3 linked regions of the Homo sapiens genome follow. The protein of the gene in region 2 purifies or fractionates together with the protein of the main gene of each other region. This does not show direct contact. Each region holds a gene or a part of one and is shown on either strand. Other genes may lie near its edges. The genes, in order: SCARB2, TPST1 and GDPD5.

What was found.
Region 1: the proteins of TPST1 (region 2) and SCARB2 purify together in Homo sapiens (affinity purification with western blotting; one study listed by BioGRID). This does not show direct contact.
Region 3: the proteins of TPST1 (region 2) and GDPD5 purify together in Homo sapiens (co-immunoprecipitation; one large-scale study listed by IntAct). This does not show direct contact.

The regions. Positions count from the first base shown.
Region 1 is NC_000004.12:76,172,298-76,175,954, forward strand, and holds part of SCARB2 (lysosome membrane protein 2), read right to left. Parts: intron 3,614-3,657; coding exon 3,494-3,613; intron 2,017-3,493; coding exon 1,847-2,016; intron 1-1,846.
Region 2 is NC_000007.14:66,208,206-66,211,862, reverse strand, and holds part of TPST1 (protein-tyrosine sulfotransferase 1), read right to left. Parts: intron 1-3,657. UniProt on the Homo sapiens protein: Catalyzes the O-sulfation of tyrosine residues within acidic motifs of polypeptides, using 3'-phosphoadenylyl sulfate (PAPS) as cosubstrate.
Region 3 is NC_000011.10:75,436,403-75,438,960, forward strand, and holds part of GDPD5 (glycerophosphodiester phosphodiesterase domain-containing protein 5), read right to left. Parts: intron 647-2,558; coding exon 534-646; intron 1-533. UniProt on the Homo sapiens protein: Glycerophosphodiester phosphodiesterase that promotes neurite formation and drives spinal motor neuron differentiation.

The sequences.
Region 1 (3,657 bases), on a different chromosome or scaffold from region 2:
ACTCTGTTGCCCAGGCTGGAGTGCAGTGTTGCAATCATAGCTCACTGCAGCCTTGAATTCCTACGCTCCAGCCTCAGCCTCCTGGGTATCTGGAACTATAGGTGTATGCTACTATGCCCAGCTAATTTTTAAATTTTTTGTTCAGATGGGGTCTCCCTGTTGCCCATGCAGGTCTAAATTCTTGGCCTCAAGTGAGCCTCCTGCTTCAGCCTCCTAAAGTGTTAGGATTACAGGCATGATCCACCATGCCTCACCAATATATTTTTAATAACTCTCCAGATAATTCTGATGTAAAGCCAGGTGTGGGGGTCACTGCCCTGTCAGACAAGGATCAGGAGGTATACTGCTGACTTCAGACTTATTCCAAAATGATATCTTATTCTTTTTTTTTTTTTCTTTTTTAAAAGATGGAGTCTCGCTATGTTGCCCAGGCTAGAATCAAACTGGGCTCAAACGACCCTTCCACCATAGCCTCCTGAGTAGCTGGGTCTACAGGCACACGCCACCATGCCAGGCCTGAAAGGAGATTTTAAAATGAGATAGATAAGGGAGCAAAAGTGAGCACATTACTATTCAGGAGAAAGGGACTACACAGAGAGCTCTCCAGAGAAATTTTAAAGAGGAATTACAGCCCAAGAGGGAATCACAGGGCAAATATGAGAAGACCCTGAGTTCCGCCAGGGATCTGCTCAGAGGGAGGAGTCGCATCAAAATCACGTTCCCTCTCTGAGCCCTAGTTTCCCCAATTATAAAAACAGGCCGCTGAATGTCTACTATCTAGTAAGTTCATTGTGAATAATTCTGCAACATGTGGCTGTTAAAACTACTCTTCAAGATGAAGAAAATAGTTTTGTCAGTTGTGCCACTGATAATTCTGCCTCATTCATGGAAAGGAGCAGAGTAGCTCTGACATTAAGAAACACTGGGACATTTGTGTCAGGGTTTAAAACTAACTCTGCTTCAAAATCACTGAGAATCTTTGCCATGATACGTACTTTCTTAAAACTGAGTTGTCCACTTTTTCTTTTAGCTTTTTTTTTTTTTTGGTGGGGAGGTGCGGAATCACTCTATTGCCCAGGCTGGAGTGCAGCAGCACAATCATAGCACAGTGCAACCTCGAACTCCTGGGTTCAAGCAATCTCTCTGCCTCAGCCTCCTGAGCAGCTGTAACTACAGGTGTGTGCCGCCACACCCAGCTAATTTTTTAATTTTTTTTTTTTTGTAGAGACAGGGTCTTGCTATGTTGCCCAGGCTGATCTTGAACCCCTGGCCTCAAGCAATCCTCACATCTCGGCCTCTCAAAGTGCTGGGAATACAAGCATGAGCCACCGTGCCCAGCCTTAGCATTGTTTTGAACATGAAATCAGTTAATGTTTTGCATGCATTAACTACATGTAAATATGTAAAGCACTTAGGACAGTGACTGGCATACATCAGGTGCTTAGTAAACATGAGCTATTATTACTGTTAAGACTTCTAAACCACTGTCCAGAAAAAAAAACACAACATGGCATTCTAGAAATAAAAAGCATCACAGAAAAGCCATGATTTTTTTTTACCATTCAATAGCCATGTTATGAAACATTGTTCTTGAAAGAAACTGATCTTTCTATTGGGCTGACAATATATTCTTTTTTGTTTGTTTTGTTTTTTAGAGACAGTGGTCTCGCCATGTTGCCCAGGATGGACTTGAGAACTCCTGGGCTCAAGTGATCATCCCACCTCAGCATCCTTAGTAGCTGGGACTGTAGGTGTGCGCCACTACGCCCAGCTACATATTCTTTGTTGAACTCCAATCCTTCTGCATTCTTGACACCCCTATCATGTCCCCTCTCTGAGTTCTTACCATTCTTGCAGATGCTGACATTCAGAACTCCTGAGCCCAGGCAGTTTCCCTCAGGTATACAGAAGCCGGCATTGTCTGACGTATTGGCTAATATTTCTGCAGGAACTTTATACCGAAAGGCAGGCAGTCCCTGTACACTCTCATAGTCACTGAAAGTAATATACACTGACCTGTTAGGATGTAAGAATAAAAAGTGAATGTGGACTCTGGTCAGTGTAATCTGCCCGAAATCCGCAAGTTAGCAACAGTTCTCAGGTACAACATGGCCAAAAGCTCACAGGGTAAGTAGAAAGGAATGTTTGGAAGGCATTCTGTCAACTCAACGTGTAATAAAGCAGAAGATGAATTGTAGTGGAAGGTGTTTATTGTAGCAACGGTGATATCATCCAAACAAGAAAAAACAATATGTGGTACAAAATTAAGATGATAACATTTAGAATGGAGACTCACATAAAAAAGAAATAAGAGGCCTCTCTAGACCTGCATGGACATATGCCAGTGTGGACGGGCCACCGGCAAAGCCAGGGAAGCCAGGGCACGGCAGAGCCAAAGCTAAGGTAGAACAGGCAGCGATGGCCGTGGCCTCGTAGGGTCTTAGGCACTTGAAAAGTGTCACATTGGACAGATACTTTATTGGAATACACACTTTGATACTCAATCCCCCCCTCCAAGAAAAATCAGATTCCATATTTTGCCCCAGTCATTTATTTAAATGGAGTTCAACGTAATTCTGCCTTTCATTCTTACTGATTTCAAACATAGTCCCATGTAATATGACCACTGCTTACACTGCATAGTGCCTAACCACTTTGATGTACACAGTCACCACTGAGCCTTCAGCCCTTCCTTTGAAGGCTGGCCGGAAGAGCCTTCTGGGCCTCACTTTTTCATCTCTGAACCAGAGCTGTTGATACATCTCTCGCAAGGTTGTGAATAACATAGGTGGTTTCACTGCACAAACCAAACCACCCCTACAGCATTTTTTAATGAAAAATTTTAGGCACCAGAAAGAGATAAAATACTCTAACAAATACCTTTGTATCTGCCACTTAGACAAATAAAAATTATATTATGGATATAACTGAACCTGTCTACGTAATGCTCTTGATTCCATTCCTTCTCTGCCTCCCCTGAGGAAACCACTCTGCTGAAATATGGACAACAGTATCTTTTATTTGGCTTCCATGTAGAGACTACCTATTGACTGGAAGTAGACCAGGTCAGTTGATGCTTGACAGAGCATATCATAGTAACTAAGAGCCAACACTTAATATTGGTTACTGTGTGATGGGCCCTGGGCTAAGTATTTGACTAATACTAACTCATTTGTCCTCATAACAACCTCTAACATAGTTAACAATTTCTATCTTTGTTTTACAAATAAGGAAAGTGAGGTACAGAGTGGTTAAGTAATTTGCCCAAGGTCACACAGCTATAAGTGGTAGAGCCAAGATTCAAACCAACAGTCAGAAGTCTGTGCTGTGAACCAGTACACTATACTGTCTCGATGTGCCATCAGCATTTATCACTGATTATGCATAAATATCCATGCATAATAAGTGTGTCTGCATATATTCCTCATGCTTTTGGTGGTCTTGCAGTGAAAGACCTTATTTTTGAAAAAGAACTTATCTTTAAAGCTTTTACCTGCAAAAGTCAGATGGGAAGACATAAAGGACCTCATCTTTGGTTATTAGTGGGTGAAAAGAATCTCCATCTGTTCCATTAATCATATTGCACTTGTCTGTTATCCACCAGTCAAGTGACCTATAATTGATAAGCACAAGAAAGAGTAAAGATGATCACATTTG
Region 2 (3,657 bases):
TCCAGAGTAGCTGGGACTACAGGCACCCACCACCATGCCCAGCTAATTATTGTATTTTTAGTAGAGACCAGGTTTCACCACGTTGACCAGGATGGTCTCCATCTCTTGACCCCGTGATCCCCCTGCCTTGGCCTCCCAAAGTGCTGGGATTACAGGCATGAGCTACTGCGCCCGGCAAGACTGTGTGTTTTTAAAACAAGAATGACTACGCATATTTGACCAGTGACTTGTTAAGCAGGAAAGAAAGAAACAGCTGGTCAGTTTGCAAAATCATGAGTTCAAGCTCTGTTTTATATCACTTATCAACTGATTTATTCAACCAACTTTTATCAAGTTTCTAAAATGTATCAAGTACTGTGCAAGGCAGTGATGAAAAGATAAATAAGGCATGGTTTCAGACTTCAAGGAATTCCTTAGCTATAAAAATGGACCAGCCGGGCGTGGTGGCTCACACCTGTAATCCCAGCACTTTGGGAGGCTGAGGTGGGCAGATCACCTGAGGTCAGGAGTTCGAGACCAGCCTCAATATGGAGAAACCCCGTCTCTACTAAAAATACAAAATTAGCTGGGCGTAGTGGTGCATGCCTGCAATCTCAGCTACTCAGGAGGCTGAGGCAGGAGAATTGCTTCAACCTGGGAGGCGGAGGTTGCGGTGAGCCAAGATCGCGCCATTGCACTCCAGCCTGGGCAACAAGAGCGAAACTCCATCTCAAAAAAAAAATAAAAATAAAATAAAAATAAAAATGGACCCAGCAGATATAATTTAAATAAAATGTGATAACTCCTTTAATAGGTAAATGTACACAGTACCAGGAAAGCAAGAAACTATGTCAACAAAGGCAATATTTATCCTGGTGTGTGTGTGTGTGTGCGCGCGCGTGTGTGTGGCAGACAGACAGACGGTCTCACTCTGTCACTCAGGCTGGAGAGCAATGGCATGATCATAGCTCACTGCAGCCTCAAACTCCTGGGCTCAAGCAATCCTCCTGCCTCAGCCTTCTACATGGCTGGAACTACAGGCATGTGCCATCACATGTGCCTGGCTAGTTTTTTCCTATTTTGTAGAGACAGGGATCTTGCTATGTTGCCCAGGCTGATCTCAAACTCCTGGTCTCAAGCAATCCTCCCACCTCAATCTGCCCAAACTCTGGGATTACAGGTGTGAGCCACCACACCCAGCTGTCCTGATATTTAAAGGATGAGTTACTACTATTGTTCTTCAGGGTTCTATCACTCCCTCTTTGGGCTCTCAGCCCAGTTCTCAGTCCTAGATACCTATCACCATCTCATGGGAAGCATCTTTAAAGTAACAAGGTCTGGCCCTGCACCAGACCAAATGATACAGAATCCCTGTGGATGCCTCGATCCCCCATCCTCATTCTTTAAAAGCTCCCCAGGTGGTTTTTAAGTAGTGCCTATGTTGAAAATCACTGAACCAGGCAATCTCACCTACTTCTGATGACTTCACTTTCAATTCTAGCACAGACCCTCCATATATATCTCCATCTTTAGGGCCAACTGCTCTCTCAGGCGATTTCCTGGGCATCAAGATGTTATCATTGGCTTCCTCCTTTTCCCTCAAAATTTGTTTATTTTCCTGTATTTCCTACCTGGATGAACAGAACCACCATTACCCAGACACCCAAGCCTGAACTCAGTATGTCATCCTTGACCCTTCCTTCTCCCTCTCTCTCACCTATACACCTAACCAGTTCTCCTTACTCCACAAATTCACTCCCAAATCTAACCCCTTAGCCTCACTGGCCTCATTATCTTTCACCTACATTCCTATAATGACCACCTATTGGTCTTTGTGCACCTAGTCTTGCCCCTCTCTAACCTGTTCTCTACAATGCTACCAGAGATCAGAGTAATTTTTCTGAAAATACACCTGGGGCCAGGCGCAGTGACTCACACCCATAATCCCAACACTTTGGGAAGTCAAGGCAGAGGGTTACCTGAAGCCAGGAGTTCAAGACCAATCTGGGCAACATAGCAAGACTCCCATCTCTAGAAAAATAAATAAACATAATCAAAATATACCTGGTCACAATACTCATTCATGTTACCTGCCAGAGTAGGGGATGCAGACATGAATCAAAACCCATCCTGATTTCAAAGCCCTACCCTTAGAGTAGAGAAAGACATGTAAACAAGTAAATGACAGTAGAGATGAAGAGACATGGATTGCAGGCAGATGTGGGAATGCTTTACTGCAGAGATAACCAGAAGCCTGTATAATCTACAGGTGGCTAAGTGGGAAAACGCATTCCACGGAGAAAGAGAAACATAAAGCCATTTAGGCATGTTCAGGTAATAGAGGTGATTTTATATGGCTGAGGCAAAAGGCAAGGCATGCAGCAAGACACAAAGCCTGAGATGGGAACAAGCCAGACTTTGTAAGATCTGCCCAGGAAGAAATCCTTCAAAGGTTCCTCGCTATCATCAGGATTATGTGTTAGGACACACAAGGTCATTCATGAGCGGCTCCCATATACCTTCCCAGCCTCATTGCTCATTATGCCCATTCTCCAGCCTTTCCAAATTACCAGTTCTTTCCCAAAAGCACCAGGTTATCACACATTTTTCTTTTTTCTTTAATTTTGAGATGGAGTCTCACTCTGCTGCCCAGGCTGGAGTCAGCTCACTGTAACCTCTGCCTCCCAGGTTCAAGCGATTCTCCTGCCTCAGCCTCCTGAGTAGCTGGGATTACAGGCGCCCACCACCACGCCCGGCTAATTTTTGTATTTTTAGTAGAGATGGGGTTTCACCATGTGGCCGGGCTGGTCTTGATGGTCTTGATCCGTCTGCCTCAGTCTCCCAAAATGCTGGGATTACAGGCGTGAGCCACCGCGCCTAGCCTAAGACACACTTTTCCATATGTTACCTTCTCTTCCAAACTGCCCATCTCCCCTTACCTTTCCTTGTCTAGATTCAGCTCTTCTGAAAACTTAGTTTACTGAGCACTATGTACTTGGCAATTTGCTAGAAACTGGAGATACAATGAGATATGACACAACTCTTTCTCTTAAAGGGTTCACTCTCAAGTCAGTGAGAAAAATAAGAAAACAGAACATTATAAATAGTAAAAATGGGCTGGGCACAGTGGCTCACGCCTGTAATCCCAGCACTTTGGGAGGCTGAGGCAGGCAGACTGCTTGAGGTCAGGAGTTTGAGACCAGCCTGTCCAACATGATGAAACCCTGTCTCTACTAAAAATACAAAAATTAGCTGGGTGTGGTGGCAGGCGCCTGTAATCCCAGCTACTCGGAAGGCTGAGGTACGAGAATCACTCAAACCCTGGAGGCAGAGGTTGCAGCGAACTAAGATGTTACCACTGCACTCCAGCCTGGGCAACAGACCAAGACTGTGTCACAAAAAAAAAACTAAAAATGGTATAAGTGGTAAAAATGGAGATGGAAGTATGTACAGGGTGCTGTGGAAACACAAAGAAAAGTCACCTAACCCAAACTAAGGAGGAGGGGTAGTCAGAAAAAGTCCTAGGTGCCTGTAGACAGAAACTTGTCCTCACTCTCACCAGGGTGATGCTCCCAGAGCACCCTGTAGTCATCTCTGTCACAGTCTTGATTTTACGGTAGTGAATGGTCTGTTTCTTTACTGCTTTTTTCTCTGGATCACAAAGGGCCCAGGAAGGGG
Region 3 (2,558 bases), on a different chromosome or scaffold from region 2:
CTCCCCATCTCAGTGTATCAGGCGCCCAAAGCCTTCCTCACTGCCCAGGCAGCTCTGACCACGTCCTCCCGCCCCCCGCCCGGCACTCCCATCGCAGGAACTCGACTTTCCCTGCCACTGTTTATATACGTAGCTGCTGCTTCCATCAGACTGGGAATGTTGACAGGGACTGGCAAAGAGCAAGGGTGAGGCCAACATTGTAGGATCCAAGTACGAACCAGGCAAAGGGGGATGGGCCTTCAAAACAGACTCCTCTCCCTACCCCACCCCTGCCCACCAACCATGGCACTGACACCAAGCCATGGTGGATGACAGGGTGGATGACTGTGTGTGTGGGGGTGTGTGTTTTCACACGTGTACTTATGCCTTTGTATGTCTGTGGGTATAATCCCGGTGGGTTTATGTACGTCTGTGCCCTTGTCCCTACCCATATGTGCCACATGTGAATGTGTGTGCATACACATCTGTTTGCATGTGGGGGTGCAGAAAGCTGGGCCCAGGGCCTGCCTCCACCTGTCTGCAGGGCTGTGTACCTGAGAAAATAAGCTTCTCCTTCATGATGCTGACGTCCCGGCTGGTCCGGCGCACCGCAGCACTCAGCATGATCTGCTCAGGGTTGTAGCTCCGTATGCCACCCAGGCGCCACCTGCAGAGATGGCCCCGTGGGCATCAGGTCTCTCCTCAGCCCTCCCTTGGAGCAGAGACCCTGCCTACTTCCAGAGCCTCTCTGGATGTGGCCCAAGAGACCAGCAGGACTCTTGTCCCACTGTACAATGGGGAAATAGGCCCAGAGAGGGCAGAGTTGGGGCTTGAATCAGAGCCTACTGACTCTCGGCCAGGGCTCCCTGGCCTCCCTCTTACCTCCAGAGCCGCCAGTCAGCAGCCCTGGCCCAGGACTAGGGTTGGTTAGTTCTGTCTCAGGTGTCCCCAGTAATGCACCTGGCTCTCTTTGAATGGGACAGATTTGGGAGCAGGAGGAGCTTAGTAGGCACGACTCTGTTGACCTAAGCTGGGGCACACACCAATCTCAGGGAGTCCCAGCTGATGTCTCTTATAGCTCCACCATCATGACCAGACTAAGTGAAGCCATTGGGGAGACCCCTTGAGAGGGAGGGAAGGAAAGCAGGGGGGTGGGGCCAGGTGGTAGGGGGCTTTGCCCAGAGCTGGTCTGCACAGGTTCCCAAGGCAAGGGGGTTAGAGTGACTTGGAGTGGGGCCAACTGCTGCTCTGTCCTGGCAGTCCTAATGCGGAGGGAGGTCAGAGCATGAATCCCTCTGATGGCTGAGACAGGTGCAAGGTGGGGGTAAAATTACTCAAGAGTGGGCTGGGAGGTGGAGCATGCACAGGGCATGAAGGGACCAGGCACTAAGTGGAAAGGACTCAGGTTTCTGTGCCCAGCCCAGGCCACTGTCTTCACTATTGTCATTCCTCTGAACTAGCCCCAGTCCCTGGCCTCTGAACTTAGACCTTTCCTGGGATCTAGGCAGAAGGATCACTGGACTCTCACCCCTGTCCCCACCAGGAGGAGGGGGTGATCAACTTGGGAACAAGAACCCAACTGCCTCAGGGACTGAACCCTGCTTGGGGGATGGAGAGAGCCAAGACTCCACAAGAAACCAACTGTGAGTTACTAGATGGGGTCAGCGCAGCAGAAGTGGACAGACAGATGGACAGGCGGATGGATGGATGAACAGAGCAGGCAGACAAGGGGAAAGCAGGAGGCGGGGGGTGGCACGGACACCCTGGCGAGGCTGGCTGCCCTATGAATCATTGAGGGCAGTGAGCAAATCTCTCTCTGTTCATCGCTGTGCCCCAGTACCATCAGTGCCTGCCGTGTCCCGGGAGCCTGACCTGTACTTGTTGAGTGAATGAATGGAAGAATAAGGCCCACAGGGAAAGAGTATCCTCCCCCGGCCTTGTCCCCCAGGGTACCTTCCTCCACCAGGCCTCTCCTGATCCCCAGGAGACAATGACACTGCCCTGGCTGTGTCTGAGCAGACCCAGCGTGTCTGTGCCAGCCACTGAATCACCATGGGGTGGCCTCCCCAGCACCCTGGGGCTCCATGTGAGAAGGCCCAACTCCTGCTGCAGACAGCATCAGCAACCAGTGTATGTGGATGTTGGTCAACTGGGCGGACACAGGAATGACTCAAGGAATGTCCCATAGCCAGGGACAGCATCTCCTCCTAGAAGCTGATTGGTGAAGCTGCCTGACCCAGGAGGGGCTAAGGCACTAGACGGAGGGAGACGTGGGTCCCTAAGCTCTAGGTCCCATCCTGGAAATTCATGTTGAAACCCAGAAGGACAGTGTCAGGCCAGGGTCTCTCGGCCAGGCATATCCAGAACAGGAAGCTCAGCCACTGTGGGGTCCTCTGAGGGGAATGAGGAAAAGGCTGTGTGTTGCGGGGAGCAAAGCAGGGATGGGTGTTAGAGATAGAATGTAAAGAAGAGAGAGAAAGAGATGGGAGAGGCAGAGAAAGGTAAACAGGAAGAGTGAACAGTGGGAGAGGCAGAGCCAGGGAGGGAGAAGATGGGAAGAGAGAGGCAGAAACTTGGTA